Linked DNA regions of Homo sapiens: region 2 is linked to region 1. The links come from fine-mapping of genetic effects on gene expression. A gene starts in region 1. The other region holds a variant in brackets. All regions are shown on one strand. Distances are between the middles of the regions.

Region 1 (8,327 bases):
AAAATCTTGCTTTAGCCATTTTCAAACTCCCAAATTCTAACACTAGGGTCATCTAATAAAGATACTATGCCTTCGGCCGGTCACAGTAGCTAACACCTGTAATCCCAGCACTTTGGGAGGCCTAGGTGAGAGGATCGCTTGAGTTCAGGAGTTTGAGACCAGCCTGGGCAACCTGGTGAGAACTTGTCTCCACTAAAAATAAAAATAGCCAAGTAAGTTGGCGAGTGCTTGTAGGCCCAACTACTTTGGAGATTGAGGTGGGAAGATCACTTGAGCCCAGAAGATGAAGGCTTTAGTGAACTATAAGCATGCTATTGCACTCCAGCCTGAGCAACAGGGGAAGACCTTTGTCTTAACAACAAACAAACAAAAAAACAAAACAAAACAAAACAAAAAAACAGGGCCGGGTGCGGAGGCTCACATATGTAATCCCAGCACTCTGGGAGGCCGAGGAGACCGAGGTGGGCAGATCACTTGAGGTAAGATGTTGAGACCAACATGGCCAACATTGTGAAACCCCATTTCTACTAAAAATACAAAAATTAGCAGGCACACTGATGGGTGCCTGTAATCCCAGCTACTCGGGAGGCTGAGGCACGAGAATCGCTTGAATCCAGCAGCGAGGTTGCAGCAGTGAGCCAAGATTACGCCACTGCACTCCAGCCTAGGAAAGAGTGAGGCAGTCTCAAAAACAAAACAAAACAAAACAAACAAACAAACAAAAAGAAAGGCCGGGCGCAGTGGCTCATGCCTGCAATCCCAGCACTTTGGGAGGCCGAGGCGGCGGATCACCTGAGGTCGGGAATTCGAGACCAGCCTGACCAACATGGAGAAATCCCGCATCTACTAAAAATACAAAATTAGCCAGGTGTGGTGGCGCATGCCTGTAATCCCAGCTACTCAGGAGGCTGAGGCAGGAGAATCGCTTGAACTCGGGAGGCGGAGGTTGCAGTGAGCCGAGATGGAGCCACTGCACTCCAGCCTGGGCAACAAGAGCGAAAGTCCCTATCAAAAAAATAAATAAATAAAAGATACAATACCATGCCTTCCCAAGGAAATACTTCTTTTCTTCTGAGGTCGGTTTGACCTATACTAGTGACAAAATTTTTCATCATATTATTGCCTAGAATGGAAACTAAAGAGGTTGTCTAATACCCAAAGAAGTAATCTGACCAATGTCACATACCTAGTCACAGGCCAAACTAGTACCCAGTTCCCTCCTAACTACCAGGCCACTCCTTCACCACAGATAATGAAACAAGGTTACAATTAATTGATCAGAGAAAACTCAAGAGCATGCCCTGTAGTATTGTATCAGTACTAAATTTCCTAATTTGGATAACTGTGCTCTGGTTACATAAGAATGTCTTTGTGCTTAGAAAATCCACGTTGAGCCGGGCGCAGTGGCTCATGCCTGGAATCCCAGCACTTTGGGAGGCTGAGGCGGGTAGATCACGAGATCAGGAGTTCAAGACCAGCCTGACCAACATGGTGAAACCCTGCCTCTACTAAAGATACAAAAATTAGCCAGGCATGGTGGCATGCACCTGTAATCCCAGCTACTCAGGAGGCTGAGGCAGGAGAATCGCTTGAACCCAGGAGCCGGAGGTTGCAGTGAGCCAAGATCACGCCACTGCACTCCAGCCTGGGCGACTGAGCGAGACTCCATCTCAAAAAAGAAAGAAAATCCATGTTGAAGTGTTTAGGGATAAAGGGGCTTGATACCTCCAACTCTAAAGGTGGGGGGAGGCACACAGTACATATAAATATTTACCTACAGTCATGAAGCAAATGCAGAAAATGTAACCAGTTATTGAATCATATGGGAGTTCTTTGAAACACTGTAACTTTGTTAGTTTCTAATTATGTAAAAATGCTACGAGTAAATAAACTGCCTTATGTCACAAAACTAGCATTTTACTTTTAACAAGACAGGATTTGGCCAGGCACAGCAGCTCATGCCTATAATCCTAGCACTTTGGAAGGCCAAGGCGGGTGGATCACTTGAGGTCAGGAGTTCAAGACCAGTCTGGTCAACATGGTGAAACCCCATCTCTACTAAAAATACAAAAGTTAGGGTATGGTGGCAGGCGCCTGTAATCCCAGCTATTTGTGAGGGTGAGGCAGGAGAATCGCTTGAACCCGGGAGGCAGAGGTTGCAGTGAGCCAAGATCGCGCCACTACACTCCAGCCTGGGCGACGGAGAGAGACTCCGTCCCCCACCCGAAAAAAAAAAACAAAAAAAAGAAAGACAGGACTTCATGTCAAGGTCATCCTTCCCAAATCAAAATTACGCCAAATTTGGGGACAAACTGCAAAGAAATGCTATAACAACCTTCATTTCCTTTAAATGAGGATATACATCTCCACCCTCAGGTTCTGGGAAGAGGTTCTAATCTGTGCATAAGCACTATACATTTCATGCAAGCCAGCTTCAAATTACTCCTCCAGGACCCCACAATGCTGACCCTACTACCACACCTTTAAATGTTACTTCGTCTTCTAAACTGATTCAAGTGACCAGACCAGGACAGAAATCCATCTACTCAATGAGTAACACTGACTCAAATAACTATTTGTCCAGCTAACAATTCCCTCTTCCTTAAGACCACCACTGCAGACCACTCTGCCACAAACTGCAGGCAGATCCAGAGCCGGTTACATAATACTTTCTCACAGCCCCAGTGGGGAAAAAAACTGGGGGGATACCATTATAGCTCAGTCCAAACTAGCATTACTTCAGATAATCAAATTCACAAATGAAGAGATATGTTCCAAAAGAAGGACACCAGTCTAAAAAAAAAAAAAGGAAAAAGGAACAGCTGGAGAAGGTGGAGAAAAACCCAAGATCTCAAATAATAATAATAATAATAATAATAATAATAATAATATCTGTTACTAGGTGACAAAATCAAGTCTGAAAAAACCAGGGTCCACCGAATTAAACCAAACATCAGCAAGCCTTCTTGGGGAAGGTGGCTAAGGGTAAAACGAATTTAATCTAAACTAGTTTTTGGCTCCAAGGAGCTGCAAGTCCACAGGCGTGCGGTGAGGAGGGCTGACAAGGACCCCCAGGGAAAAAGGCAAAGTGCTGTGCTTAGATTTTGCGAAAAGATGCAGGTATGGTGGGTCTCCAGATGACTTGTGGCAACATAAAAGTTTCATGATCAGAATTGGAATTCAAAGTGGACCAAAAAGTGTAATAGAAAAAAAAAAGTATGAAAGGAAACCTGAAATTGTTCTACGATGCTTGCTTTGTTTTAACGGAAGCTCACATTCAGGTCAGGATGGGACGACCAAGTTCGTTTGTGTGTGGCAAAAAGGAAGTTTTAGATGTTGCTGAAAAGTTCACTTATGAACGTGGGCACCAAGTCTGAATGAGTAAGAGAAAGGCTAGGAGCAGGAAGAAAAAGCAAGGGGGCTCAAAGGGGCACAACAAATAAATCCTGACAGCTAAGAAGTGCAACCCACGCGGTCTGACGGCAGAAAGGCCGCGGGAAGCTGAGGGGCAGGGGATGGGCGGAGTGCCAGGGCGGAATCGAGGTCACAGTGGAGAGAGCACAAGAGAGAGCTGACGCTGCCGAAGGAGGCAGAAAAGCAGCCCCTGCAGTCCTGCGTCGAGGCCGGAGCAGACCAGCACCTTTGACAGCCTGAGGAGCTGAAAACGCTACCTGGTGGGCCCAGGGTGGGCGGACCGGGCGTTTAAAGGTCAAGGTCAAGGTGGGGTTTGGCAAGTGATGCATAGCGCTCAAAGGAGACCGAAGACATACAAATAATATTATAAAATTATGACTATCGTTATCTTTTTTTTTTAAGAAGAAAAAAATAAAAGGTCTCCTGGACGGCTGCGGGGTGGAGGCGGCCCTGGCAGGAACGCGTGCAAAATAGGCTGGGGGCTGAAGTCGGGACGGAGGGCAGGCCGAGGGACCTGTGCTGGGCCACCGGAGGGAGGCACTGAGACTCGGGCCCAGGGCCTCCGCCGCACTCACTTGCCCTCCTGGCAGTCATAGAGCACGATGGAGTCGTCGTCGCTACTCGAGATGACCGTCTCGCCGTTGGGGCTGAAATCGAAGCAGTTAATCTTGTCCGAGTTTTCGCGGAACACCTTAGCGACGCGGAAGCTCCGCAACACGCTGTCGGTCAGCTTCATGGCGGCGGCTGGGGAAGGCAGCGGCGGCGCAGGGCCGGGGCGGGGCCCGGCGGCGAGCGGGCGGGCTGCCGAGGGGCCAACCCAGGCGGGGCGGGCGCCGCGCCGGCGGCTAGCGGGAAGTCGGCCAACAGTTGGGCCGCCTCCTCCTCTTCTTCCTGCTTGGTCGAGGGTCTTCTGCCTGGACTGTGGAGCCTCGCCGACCGTTCGTCCTCACAGCCACCTCACGGACAACCGGCGCGTCGCCGGCTCATTGTGTCCGCCATTTTGGGGCGACAGGCAGAAGCTGAGGGCGAGGAGCCTCAGCCGCGGCGCACGCCGGGAAAGGGGGCGGGGCGGGAACGGCGGAGCAAGGCGGGGAGGCGGGGTGGTGACGTCAGCGCGGCCGCGGCGGAGTGTAGTGGCGGGGCGGGCTGCTGGCAGGGAGCGGCCGAGACGTGCAGGGCCTTCCCGGGGGATCGGAAGGTTGCGGATGCCTTGGGAGCCGGGGGCCCTTGCGCGGGATTGCAACCCCCGCGAAGACTCTGGCGCCTCCTGCAGGCGTCCCGATCGCAGGCTGCGTGGGAGGGGGTACTGCAGGGTCGGGTATGCTGCTGGAGGCCGGTTTTGGGGGTGACTCAGGTGAGCCGCTCGCAGGCAAGCTTGACCGCTAGTCCACCGCAGCGTCCGCTTAGACAGCTTCGACCTCTTTACTTTTTTTTTTTTTTTTGGAGATGGAGTCTCTCGCTCAGGCGCGCGCCACCACGCCCAGCTAATTTTGTATTTTTGGTAGAGACGGGGGTTCACCATGTTGGCCAGGCTGGTCTCGAACTCCTGACCTCACCCGCACCCGGCCTCGTTTTCTTAATCGAGGTAGACTTTAGGTACAGTAAAAATCAGCCTTTTTAGGCCGGGCGCGGTGGCTCACGCCTTTAAACCCACCACTTTGGGAGGCCGAGGCGGGATGATCGCTTGAGCTCAGGAGTTGAGACCAGCCTGGCCAACATGACAAAACCCCACCTCTACTAAAATACAAAAAATTAGCCGGGCATGATGGCGCGGCTGAGGCACGAGAATTGAGAAAGGCGGAGGCTGCAGTGCGCCGAAATCGTGCCACTGCATTCCAGGCTGGGCGACAGAGCAGACGGTTTCCCCCCAAAAATTAGCCTTTTTAGTGGCTAGTTTTATGTTCTGACACCCATACACAGTCATGCAGTCACCACCACATTCAAGATTTGGAAGAGTTGCACTATCCTGTTTGTAGTCAACAGGATTATTTTAAAGGTTCTATCATATAAGTGATTATTTGCCTTAAAAGAAAGTTTATCTCTAACAAAGGAAAGCAGTATTTGAACAGAAAATAGGAACCAAGCTTCCTAACCTTAACTTTCTGGGCAAGGGGTTAAACTCAATGCCAACCTATGTGGCTTCACAGATCTGTATCTTGTGTGAAGCTCCTCAAAAGGTTAATTGCCTGGGGTTTCCAACAATGAAGATGGGGATTATTTATTTTTGCTTTCTTTAGCTAAAGAGAAACAAAAACGAGGAAAGGCTGTGAGACATTTCAGTCGCTATTAGGAAGGTTATTATCCAGAGACCTGTGCAATGGTAAAAAACAAAATGGAAACCCTGGGACAGTTGGGGTCTTTCTAGAAAGAACTAGAGGCTGTATCCCAACCCCCTGGGTAAAAGGAGAGCCAGGATCCTTATACATAAAGAGAAGTTGTTCTCTAAGGGAAGAGGCAAGTTCCTGGCTAAGTCTGGGGTATAATTGCCTCCTGACAAAGAGCAGAGCTTCTGGCTACAATTTGTTCTGGGGTCTGGAAAAAGCCGGTTTGAGTGAAACCTGAATAGATGGCAACTTTCCAAACTGCACACAATGGAAGAAAAACCCTCCACGTCCCAGATCACTTGCTCTGCTTCCCTGTAATTCCTGTGCCTTTATTTCAGAAGCTAGAAAGTCTGATACAGCGTCTGCTTCGAATAGTTTAGAAGGCAACAAGGACAGATCGAGTACCATGTTCTAGAACTGTCGGGAAGTGAACACACCCAGTAAGATGATGCCATATTTTGGTCCATGTTAATCTACAAAAATAACCACAGAAACAGCTGTAATCTACTGAATGTTGCCAGCCAAAATAAATCTTTGCAGGGTATTTTTCAAGTATTGTACTTCCTATACCTTTTCCAGATTTCACCGTTAAGACCAAACCTTCCTCCCAAGACTTGACTTTCTGCATTATTTTTGGAATGCAGTCTTTTTTTTTTTCCCCCATTTTTAAGAGGGTCTTCAAATCCTCATCCTGTTTCGCATTCTTACTGTTTCCAATTCCTAGCCTGGCTCCCTGCCCTATTATAGTGGGGCTCTCCTGGCTTCCAGCCCAACAGTATGGTTGCCTTAAAGGATGGACTTTAGGCCAGGTGCGGTGGCACTTTGGGAGGCCGAGGTGGGTAGATCACAAGGTCGGGAGTTCAAAACCAGCCTGGCCAAAATGGTGAAACCCTGTCTCTATTAAAAATACAAAAATTAGCTGGGCACAGTGGCGGGCACCTGTAATCCCAGCTACTTGGGAGGCTGAGGCAGGAGAATCGCTTGAATCCGGGAGGCAGAGGTTGTAGTGAGCCGAGATCACACCACTGCACTGGGCATTAGAGCAAGACTCCGTCTCAAAAAAAAAAAAAAAATGGACTTTAAAAAGTGACACAGAAAGCCGGCTCCAGTGGATGGGTGGATGGAGAGAAAGCTGCAGTCAAGAGTGAATCAGATGGGCTTTAAAAGAGCATCAGACTTAATTTTTTATGTTTCCTTTTATTTGTAGTCATTCTTTTACTTGTCACATATTCATTGCAAAAAAACTAAAAAATACAAATAATAAAAACAGCATCCAGAGATAGCCACTGTTACAATCTTTTATTATAGTGAAATATATATAACACGAAATTTACCATTTTGATGTAGAACCTTTCCGATTTTTTCATATACATATATATATATATATATATTTTTTTTTTTTTTTTTTTTTTTTTTTTCCTGCTCTGTCACCCAGACTGGAGTGCAGTGGCGTGCTCTCAGCTCACTGTAACCTCCATGTCCTGGGTTCAAGTGATTCTCCTGCCTCAGCCTCCTATAGATGCCCGCCACCACGCCCAGCTAATTTTGTATTTTTAGTACAGACGAGGTTTTATCATGTTGGCCTGGCTGGTCTTGAACTGCTGACCTCAGGTGATCTGCCTGCCTCACCATCCCAAAGTGCTGGGATTACAGGCATGAGCCACCACACCCAGCCAATCCCTGAAATATATTTTTATTGGGTTCATAATATATTGTTTGTAAGTTTACCCATACTATGAACATATTCCAGGTCAATAAATATCGATACAATCATTTTGAATGGCTACAAACTATTCTATTATATGGCTGTAAAGTAATTTTGCTTCCCATTTTGTCCAGAGCCCAGCCAGAGCTCAGTATGGATTAATTGAATAAATGAATTTATCCAAAGGATTCCAGATACTTGATTGGCCCACTTATTAAATTTTTCTATTTCATGCTGCACAATTGGAATGGAAACTGTCCTAAACAATGTGTCCTCTTTCCAAAACACAGAGCTCCTTATGAATTCTAATTCTTTGAGATAAATTTCTGAGCTCCAGTGCCCAGCAGCAGGGCTTCCCTAGAGATTGACTAACGTCTTACTCAACCCTTGGAATAACTAGAATCAGGTGACTCTCTTCTTTGGGACAGTTGCATGTGTGTAAGTGTGACAGTGTGTGTGTGTATCAGTGCTTACACAGCCCTCGGAATAACTAGAATCAGGTGACTCTCTTCTTTGGGACAGTTGAGTGTGTGTGTGTGTGAGCTTAATTGCCAAAGAGGAAACGCAGAACACTAGAACACAAAATGCCTGGTGAGGTGTCTGAGCCCCAGCACCAGGAAGTGGTCGCCTCACAGGTTGGCAAAAAATTTACTGACAACAGTATAGGTTTGAAAAAGGAAAATTTCTTAGAAAGAAAGAACGCTGCAGAAGAGTGCAGCGGGGCACCCCAGCGAGAGGACTGAGGGCCTTGGTGGATTTTCCTTAGGTGCATTTATGGACCTTCAGGCAGGAGCTTAGGGTTGTAAAATTAGTTTCAGCATGACATTCCAGAGATGCCTAGAAATTTTAGTTACTTATAAAAGTTGAAAGAGGCCTGGAACCAG
Region 2 (8,327 bases), 22 kb before region 1:
TTAGGGCTTGCTGTTTAATAAGCAGCTTAGTTCATCTTCTCCAAAAAGACTATGCTGTCATCTTGGCTGGGGCACAGTGGCTCATGCCTGTAATCCCAGGACTTTGGGAGGCTGAAGCAGGTAGATCACTTGAGCTCGGGAGTTTGAGACCATCCTGAACAACATGGTGAAACCCCATCTCTATCAAAAATACAAAAAATTAGTAGGGCATGGTGATATATGCCTGTGGTCCCAGCTACTTGGAAGGCTGAGGTGGGAGGATCACCTGAACCCAGGAGGTGGAGGTTGCAGTGAGGGGAGATTGTGCCACTCCACTCCAGCCTGGACAACACAGTGAGACTCTGTCTCAAAACAAAACAAAACAAACAAAAAAATGGGGCCAGGCCTGGTGGCTCAGGTGTGTCATCCAGCACTTTGGGAGGCTGAGCAGGCAGATCACCTGAGGTCCGGAGTTTGAGACCAGCCTGACCAACATGTTGAAACCCTGTCTCTACTAAAAATACAAAATTAGCCAGGTGTGGTGGCACATGCCTGTAATCCCAGCTACTCGGGAGGCTGAGGCAGGAGAATCGCTTGAACCCGGGAGGCGGAGGTTGCAGTGAGCCAAGATCGCACCGTTGTACTCCAGCCTGGGCAATAAGAGCAAAACTGTCTCAAAAACAAAACAAAACAAAAACAGCCATGCTGTCAACTAGAACGTACCAAAGCTCAAGTGCTCAGGAAGTATCTATTGAATTACAAGGCAAACCACCTTCATGACCTCAGCTTTACTTGACCCTTCTCTGATTTACTCCTACTTTATAATTTAGGTGAATTCTCTCACCAGGCAACTGACAGCCCAAAATTGCAGCCAAGAAGAATATCCAACAGGTCGCAGAGCCAATGGTAAAACCTGTATAATTAACTCAACTGAGAGGCTCTCAGAACCCACCCCACCCCGGCTTTTTTTTTTTTTTTTTTGAGATGGAGCTTCACTCTTGTCGCCCAGGCTGGAGTGTAATGGTGCCATCTCAGCTCACTGCAACCTCTAGCCTCCTGGGTTCAAGTGATTCTCCTGCCTCAGCCTCCTGAACAGTTGGAATTACAGGCACACACCACCACACCCAATATTTTTAGTAGAGATGGGGTTTCATCATGTTGGCCAGCCTGGTCTCAAACTCCTGACCTCAGGTGATCCACCCACCTCGGTCTCCCAAAGTGCTGGGATTACAGGCGTGAGCCACTGCACCCAGCCTCAGACCCCCTTTCCTACCCATTAACTCTAGATTTCATTTCCTACACATTCTCCAGGGAAGACTGGAAAAACTGCATCAGATATTTCCCACTGCTATATTCCACAGTGCAGGACTTCAGGGTTGAACCTGTCCACAGCTAGGCCCTATGGTAGTCTTGCTAGGACTCCTCTAGCCAGGCAGCTTGAGTGCTGTCCTACCAGCCTGTAGGAGTGTCACTTCCTCTTTCCTCACCACAGCCTCCACTACCTCACCACTCCGCCTGAGCAAAAAAAAAAAAAAGGGTGGGCAGCATCCTGTGCCTGCTTCTCTTACCCACATCAACTGCTGAGCCAGCTCGCCCCCACAGCCTGCTTGCCTAGCTTGCTACCATGCCTGCTGTTGTTCCTCACGTCACAAGGCTGAATGAAGCCTGGGGGGTGGGTGAAGTAGGTCTTTCAGTTGCGAGCAGGACAGAGACCAGAGTGGCTGCTCTAAGGGCAGCCATGCTTACCTACTTGTTCATGTCTCCCAGCAGAGCTGAACACGGCAGCAGTCCTCCCACCAGGCCAGGAGGGGGTCTCTTCCTACGTACGTAGTGTCAGAAGAGCCTGTGCATGGCCTGTCACACACAAGCTAGGATGTTCCCTCCGCCACTGTTGCAGAGTCCCATGAGCAATGTGAAAATGTGGCAGGCCCAAGGTTTTCTTCTCTGGTCCAGAGAGGGCGAGGCAAGAGCAGGAAGCAGGTTCTACAGCTCTGAGAATGCTGAGCTAGAGCAGCAGCCTCCAGGCAAATGGGTTACCAAAGCAATTGCCTTCTGCCAGACTGGGTGCTGGGGCCTCAGAGAGACTCCAGTATTCTTGCCTTCCTGAAACCAGGGTCTAGCAGGACAAAACATATTCCAACTAGAGGTTGTCAATCTGGTGAAGGGTTGAGTAAACAGTAGAGGATGCAAGGCAGCCTGAGGTAAGTGCCAGACAGTCTCCGAAGATTCAGGCTGGCTCAGGCTTGCCTTGCCCCGTCAGTCATTGCTGGCTCTATGGCTATTACAGCCTGGGGTTGAAGGCTGGTTCTAGGGGTTCCTCCCACCAGCCCATAAATCTTAGTTACCAAGGGGCAGTCAGAGGCAGTCCCAGGGAGCCCAGCAATCCGTCTACACAGCATTACAGCAAGCTGCAGTGTGAGCCAGAACTAACAGGAGACAACCCAAGCCTCCCTCCAGCTCTGGGAACCAGGCAAACCATGCTACAGAAACTCAAATCGAAGAGGCTGCAGCCATAAAATTCTGTTTAAGACTGTAACATGGAAAAAATGTTTATACGTTAAGTACAAAAGGGACATAAAATTGTATATACAGAATAACGACTATGTAAACACACCAAAAATCTATGCACAGAAATGTCTAGGGGGAACATTTAACACCAAAAGATTAACAGTGGTAGCATTTGGGTGGCAAACTTGATTCTTTCTAAAATTCCCATATTTTCCTTAATAAGCAGTAATTATAATTACAACGGGAAATAATTTCTTTAAGTACCCAGTGCAGTGTCACTGTCAAATAAACATCAGTGGCTTTGGCCCCAATTCTTAAGGTGGCAAACGCCGCTGCCCCACTCCCCACCCATCCCCAATAGGGCTTGAGCACCTGTAGCCCTGCTGAGCACGTCTGTGCAGCCCCAGCCCTCAGCATCTCTTCCACTCGCTTCCAGCTATATCTTTTCCCTTTCCTTCTTAATTCAGGAGGCAGCTTTGCAACCACAGGGCCCAACGATAGAGACTGTGAGGTGGCATTTTTTTTTTTTTTTTTTTGAGACGGAGTTTTGCTGTTGTTGCCCAGGCCGGAGTGCAATGGCACGATCTCAACTCACCGCAACCTCCGCCTCCTGGGTTCAAGCAATTCTCCTGCCTCAGCCTCCCAAGTAGCTGAGATTATAGGCGCATGCCACCACGCCCGGCTAATTTTGTATTTTTAGTAGAGATGGGGTTTCTCCATGTTGGTCAGGCTGGTCTCAAACTCCCGACCTCCGGTGATCCGCCCGCCTCGGCCTCCCAAAGTGCTGGGATTACAGGTGTGAGCCACCGCGCCCAGCCTTGAGGTGGCATGTTTTCAAAGAACATGGTGCTCAGTTTTGGACACACAGGAACTCAAATACAATCATTTTCCTGCTGCTAAGTAATGCTTGGTGGCTGCTCTGGTTGCAGATATGTGAAGTTAGGTAGCCTTTCCTGTTAACCCATGGTTCCAAGCACTCTCTCTTAACAATCATTCCTACTGTGAATTTTCTACCCGGAAAAGCCAGGGGTGGGCAATAACAATTAAGATCATTTGGTTTCTAAAAGTTCTTCCTCTCTGGGAAAGCAGAACTATACAGTGGGTGGCATCCTGCAGATTCTAGTCTACATTTGGGAAAGGTGTACGCCTCTTGCACTTTCAGAGGAACAAGTCAAAAAGTAATTGCTTAAAAAAAAAAAGTGCTAGCAATTCACAGCCTATTCCTGCCCGCTGAACAGAAATTGTGATGCCTTGATTTACCCCCTAGCA[G/C]CTACATATTCTTGAGCAAGTCATAACCCTATTGTGCCTCAGTTTCTGGATCTGCAAGGAGTGTTGCCTGCATAAATGTTTGTTTAGGAACTTAGTAAAATGACATACTCCTCTCTCTGCTCTAAGAAGGCCATGAGCCAGCTGCAGCTCATCTCACTCAGCCTGGGCCTGACCAGAGTCCTTTCCTCTTCCAAGAGAAAGCAAGGAAAAGCAGCAAGCAAGCAGACATACCAGGTCAACAGGAGTGATCTATCATTGGCAACGAGGCCTCAAACAAACTGCAAATGCTCTGGCTTCAGCACCTTATCCCCAAATGCCACAAACCAGACATGGAAGCCATGCAAGAGTGACTATCACACACACACACAGGCACAGACAGAGTACCACCAAGCAAAAAGGGGGCTAATACTGCAGAGATGGCCCCAAAGTGCAGCTTGAGGAACACAGCAAGTCATCCCAAGACCCTCACTTAGCTGCCAAAGAAACAGCAAACACTATCAGCTTTGCTTCAGTCTTCTGAAATGAAAATATTAATAAGGAAGACTCACTAATACTTGTGGCAAACACTATTAGCAGGGATGCAGGGTGTCTCCTGGGCTGCAGGACTCCATCTGCTTCAGCTGAACTCTTGGAAACTACAGATGAGAGATATATGCATACGCACACACATATATGCGTATCTGTATGCACACAGATGTATTTAAATGAAGGTGCATACACTGTGCTAAAATACAAACAACAGAAATCAAAGGTCATATATAAAAACGCTAAATATGACATATAACACAGGCCTAGAACCAGCTCTTGGTTGGGAGCTGGGGAAAGGGGTGGTATCATCTGAAGACTATGTACACAATTTGTGGTGGGCAGGGAAGGCATCAGTGTAAACAACTCAGACTCACTTCACAATACTGGCCCACAGGTAAGTGTGATGTATCTCATGTACAAAAATAGACTCCCACCTTGCTTTTGTACAAACCAAGCTTGGTAGGCACCCAGGAGGACCGTGGGTTTGTCTTGATGACAGGGCACTGCACCAGGCTGCTGCTAAACCTTCCAGCCCTAGGAACTCACCTGCTACCCTCCCGCTACCCTCCCCTTTCCCTCCCTTTCAGGCCCTTGGGTCTTTTTCCCACCCAACACCTACAGCCCGAGGCCTGCCCAACCACCTAGCCTCACACGACTAACTGCAGAAACTAACTGCATGGCTTCCTGCAAGCAAGGTCCTTCTGTATCTGTCCCTTTCTCTGACCCCAAGATATATGAAAATGTTTCTGTAAATGTTTGGCACCTAAGAAACATGATGGTTGTGGATAATGCCACAAGTACACAGGGAGACCCAGTAACAAGACATGCAGGGTGAGGGCAAGCGGCTGAGCTGCCCAAGCATTTCAAAACCAGGACTTTGGCTTCCCATGCAGTTGGAGGGTAGAAGGGATGTGCGGAACTGATGACTTCACCGGCTCCTCAGCAGCATGTACATTCAAATTGAAGATGCTTGAGAGCCCCACTATACCAAATCGTGAGTCTGGTCACTCCTCCAGCAGAGCTTGGTGCAGTGACAGTTAGAAAAGCTGAGTTCCAATTGAGTCTGTTGCACCAAGAGTCCTTTTGAAGACGCTCATCAAAGTAATTATTTTCTTTTGAGCAGATGTACAGCACATCCATGGGAAGGCCATGTAAAAGGATGTTCTCCAGCCCAGTCAAATGATCCAATCCCACTATTATCTCAGTTCCCTCTGAGTTTCTTCCTGCTGGCCGCCCTCACTATACAGAAATAGCCAAGCAGCAACAGGGTCAGTCATCAATGGTGGGCAACCAAAAGGCCTAGAAGGAGAACATAAATCAACTTTAAAAAGCCAAGCATCTCCTCACTGCCAACGGTTCTTCACATCCCACCCCACAGCAAAAATGTGCCCAACCCCAGTGGCTCTGGTAGCCCTCTCTCCTAACCAACCAACCCCGATGCTCTAAGGAGACAGAAACACTCTTTCCTCTATGTGAAAGTAAAATGGTTCTGTTTTTCTCCAATAATCACTGTCCACCTTCCACCAAAGCAGACCCCCCGCCCCCTTTTTTTTAAAGGAAGGGAAAAAAAGGAGTGCTGCCTGGGAGGTGGGTGAATAAGTAACCTGTCCTCATTGCTAATCCACCAGGTTACCTCCAACAGGCCCCCACCTTCCTGGGCTGTAAAAAGTAAGGAACTGGATGGTTTTGCTGTATTTTTTCTAACATTTTTTTCTTGGTTAAAAAAAAAAAGCAAGGTGGCAATGTGCTCCGGGTAGGCTAGTAATGAAATGTCTCATCCCCGAATACCCAGGCAGGTTTAGGAGATCACAAGGGAAAACTGGAGCTGAGACTCACTGATCCTTTGTTCTGTTAGTATTATCTAGGAAGAGATAAGGGCCTGGAGTTAATTCTAAGTGGTGAGTTATGACCAACTGTAGAAATTTCTGGGAATTTGGCGTAAACCAACAGGAATGGAAAACTGAAACCACAAAAGGCCGGTTCAGAGTATTTTAAGGAGCAAAAAAATTGCCAAGCATAGCCCAGGTAGTTTGGACCTAAAATTAGGGTCCAGAGCAAAAACTGGCCTATGATCTCCTTGGAACTCAAAGATGATTCCTGATCACCTCTAGGAAGAATAAAAATGAAAGGCAAGACCAGCCCAGCCAGAGATCAAATAATAGGAGATGAAATAGGGAAACCACCAGTTGAGAAACATGTACTTGGATGCTTGTAATGTACCTATGTAGAACACAGCTTGCTGTGCTTGTTGAGGCACCCACCACCCCAACTGGGAAGGGTCCCTGAGTAGCAGATACCTCTTACTGTTCACATACCATGTTGGAACACGCACTGGCAAAAGTCATGAACTTGGGGTTGAATTGCAAACAGGTAATCGGGCCTGTGTGTTTACCATCCAACACAGCTACTTTTATACCGCTCTCTCCATTCCAGACATGGATCTTGCCATCCTCTGAACCTAAAGAGGATATTCACGGAAAATGTAACAGCTCAAGGCGCAATACAAAGACAACTGGAAATGAGACATGGATTGAGATCTGAGGATACGCCAAGCTTTAGGACCCATCCCTCAGGCAAAATTGAGAGGGAGGAGAGGCAGTGAAGGAAGGACACTTTGGAAATTTATCTTGACCCTAGCTATTTGTTCACAGGCATGTCACTTCCGTTCTAACTTCAGTTTTCTCATCTAAAAAAGGGGCCGAATACCATTACCCTACCAACAGGCAGCCACTAAGATGACTGAATGTAGGGTTACACCAGGACATTAGCATTACTAATAAGGTAGTGCTTGTGGAGTTTAACTCAAATTTTGGTCCAGTCAGGGCAGTTAAAAGACACTATGTCCTTGGCATAATGTGCTATACAGAAATCTAAGAACATCTATCAAATAGATAATAATGTCTCAGTTAATAATTTAAACAAAGAAATGCATAGTACCAGAGAAATAACCCCCACAGGGGATAAAAGGAAACTCACCAATCATAATAAACTGAGAGTCTGGAGTAAATGAAGCCTCCAGTGTGACAGCTTTGCTGTTGGCATAACCCTAAAACAAAACAGAGCAGTTCTTTTGTTCTTACAGAGCCATTAATAAAAACAGCTGCCTACAAACACTGACTCAGCACATGCATCACCTTCCTTTCCATGAAACCCTTTCCTTGTCATGTACTACACCACCAAGCTTCCAAATGTGGTTGCCATCGTTGACAATCCACTCCCACCCTCAACTCTGTATTCAAGGCATACTCAAGGGGGCAAGAAAACTTTATTGTTAGGAAATTATTTTATATCTAAATACCAAACTTGGGTCACTTGGTGAGAAATGAACATCTACGAAATCCAAGAGAGGTAAGTTCATGAGCAGGAAGAAAATACAAGTGCATGCCTTCATGAGTAAGTCAAGAGTAACTGTTGGTCTCCACCAACCAGCTAACATAATTCTTAGCATAGGAAGTATGAGCATGGAAACAGCCATGCTTGAAGGCTGTCAGCTCACCCCAAATGTGTGCATCACCACTCCTTTGAATGCATCAATCAGACGAATGAAGCTGCCGTTGGTGGAAATGAGGATGAGCTTGCCATCATTGCTGAATTTAAGTCCTGTCCACTCACAAGTTCGATCATACTGCATCTTAAAGGTAGCAAATGGCCCCTGCAAAAGATAAAAAACAGTAGCCCCAGGCATATTAATAATTTCTTCTGCTAGAGCCAATTCCCATCCTATTCCTTTAGATTACTTTTTGACTAAGGAAAGCAGAGAATGAGCTACTTCTCTGCCACTCTCTAATATCTACCACATTTTTCCTTTTGTAGAAAAGGCTCTTACAGGGCCGGGCGCGGTGGCTCACGCCTGTAATCCCAGCACTTTGGGAGGCCGAGGTGGGTGGATCACCAGAGGTGAGGAGTTTGAGACCAGCCTGACCAACATGGTGAAACCCATCTCTACTAAATACAAAAAATTAGCCAGGCGTGGTGGCGGACACGTGTAATCCCAGCTACTTGGGAGGCTGAGGCAGGAGAATCACTTGAACCTGGGAGGCAGA

Evidence for each region. PIP is the estimated chance that this variant, and not a neighbour inherited with it, causes the effect. A credible set is the group of variants that fine-mapping cannot tell apart.
Region 2: its variant is the best candidate, but not a certain one, in a credible set for the expression of WDR82 in fibroblasts (GTEx, PIP 0.82).

What each region holds. Positions count from the first base shown.
Region 1 is chr3:52,274,212-52,282,538 of GRCh38, forward strand. WDR82 (WD repeat domain 82) reads right to left here and starts at 4,438. Exons shown (of 9, transcript NM_025222.4): 1 at 3,990-4,438. The coding sequence starts at 4,150. LOC107986086 (a long non-coding RNA gene) reads right to left here. Exons shown (of 3, transcript XR_001740699.2): 3 at 8,107-8,327. RefSeq lists enhancers at 3,165-3,797, 3,301-3,350, 3,371-3,450, 3,861-3,960, 4,430-5,061 and silencers at 4,151-4,230, 4,411-4,700.
Region 2 is chr3:52,251,937-52,260,263 of GRCh38, forward strand. It overlaps WDR82 (WD repeat domain 82), which reads right to left. Exons shown (of 9, transcript NM_025222.4): 6 at 7,781-7,936; 7 at 7,261-7,330; 8 at 6,600-6,742; 9 at 2,498-5,583. The coding sequence ends at 5,554. Among named protein-coding and RNA genes, the nearest start is that of PPM1M, 10 kb to the left of the region's middle. RefSeq lists an enhancer at 1,495-1,814. The variant G/C (reference allele first, on the strand shown) is at 3,757.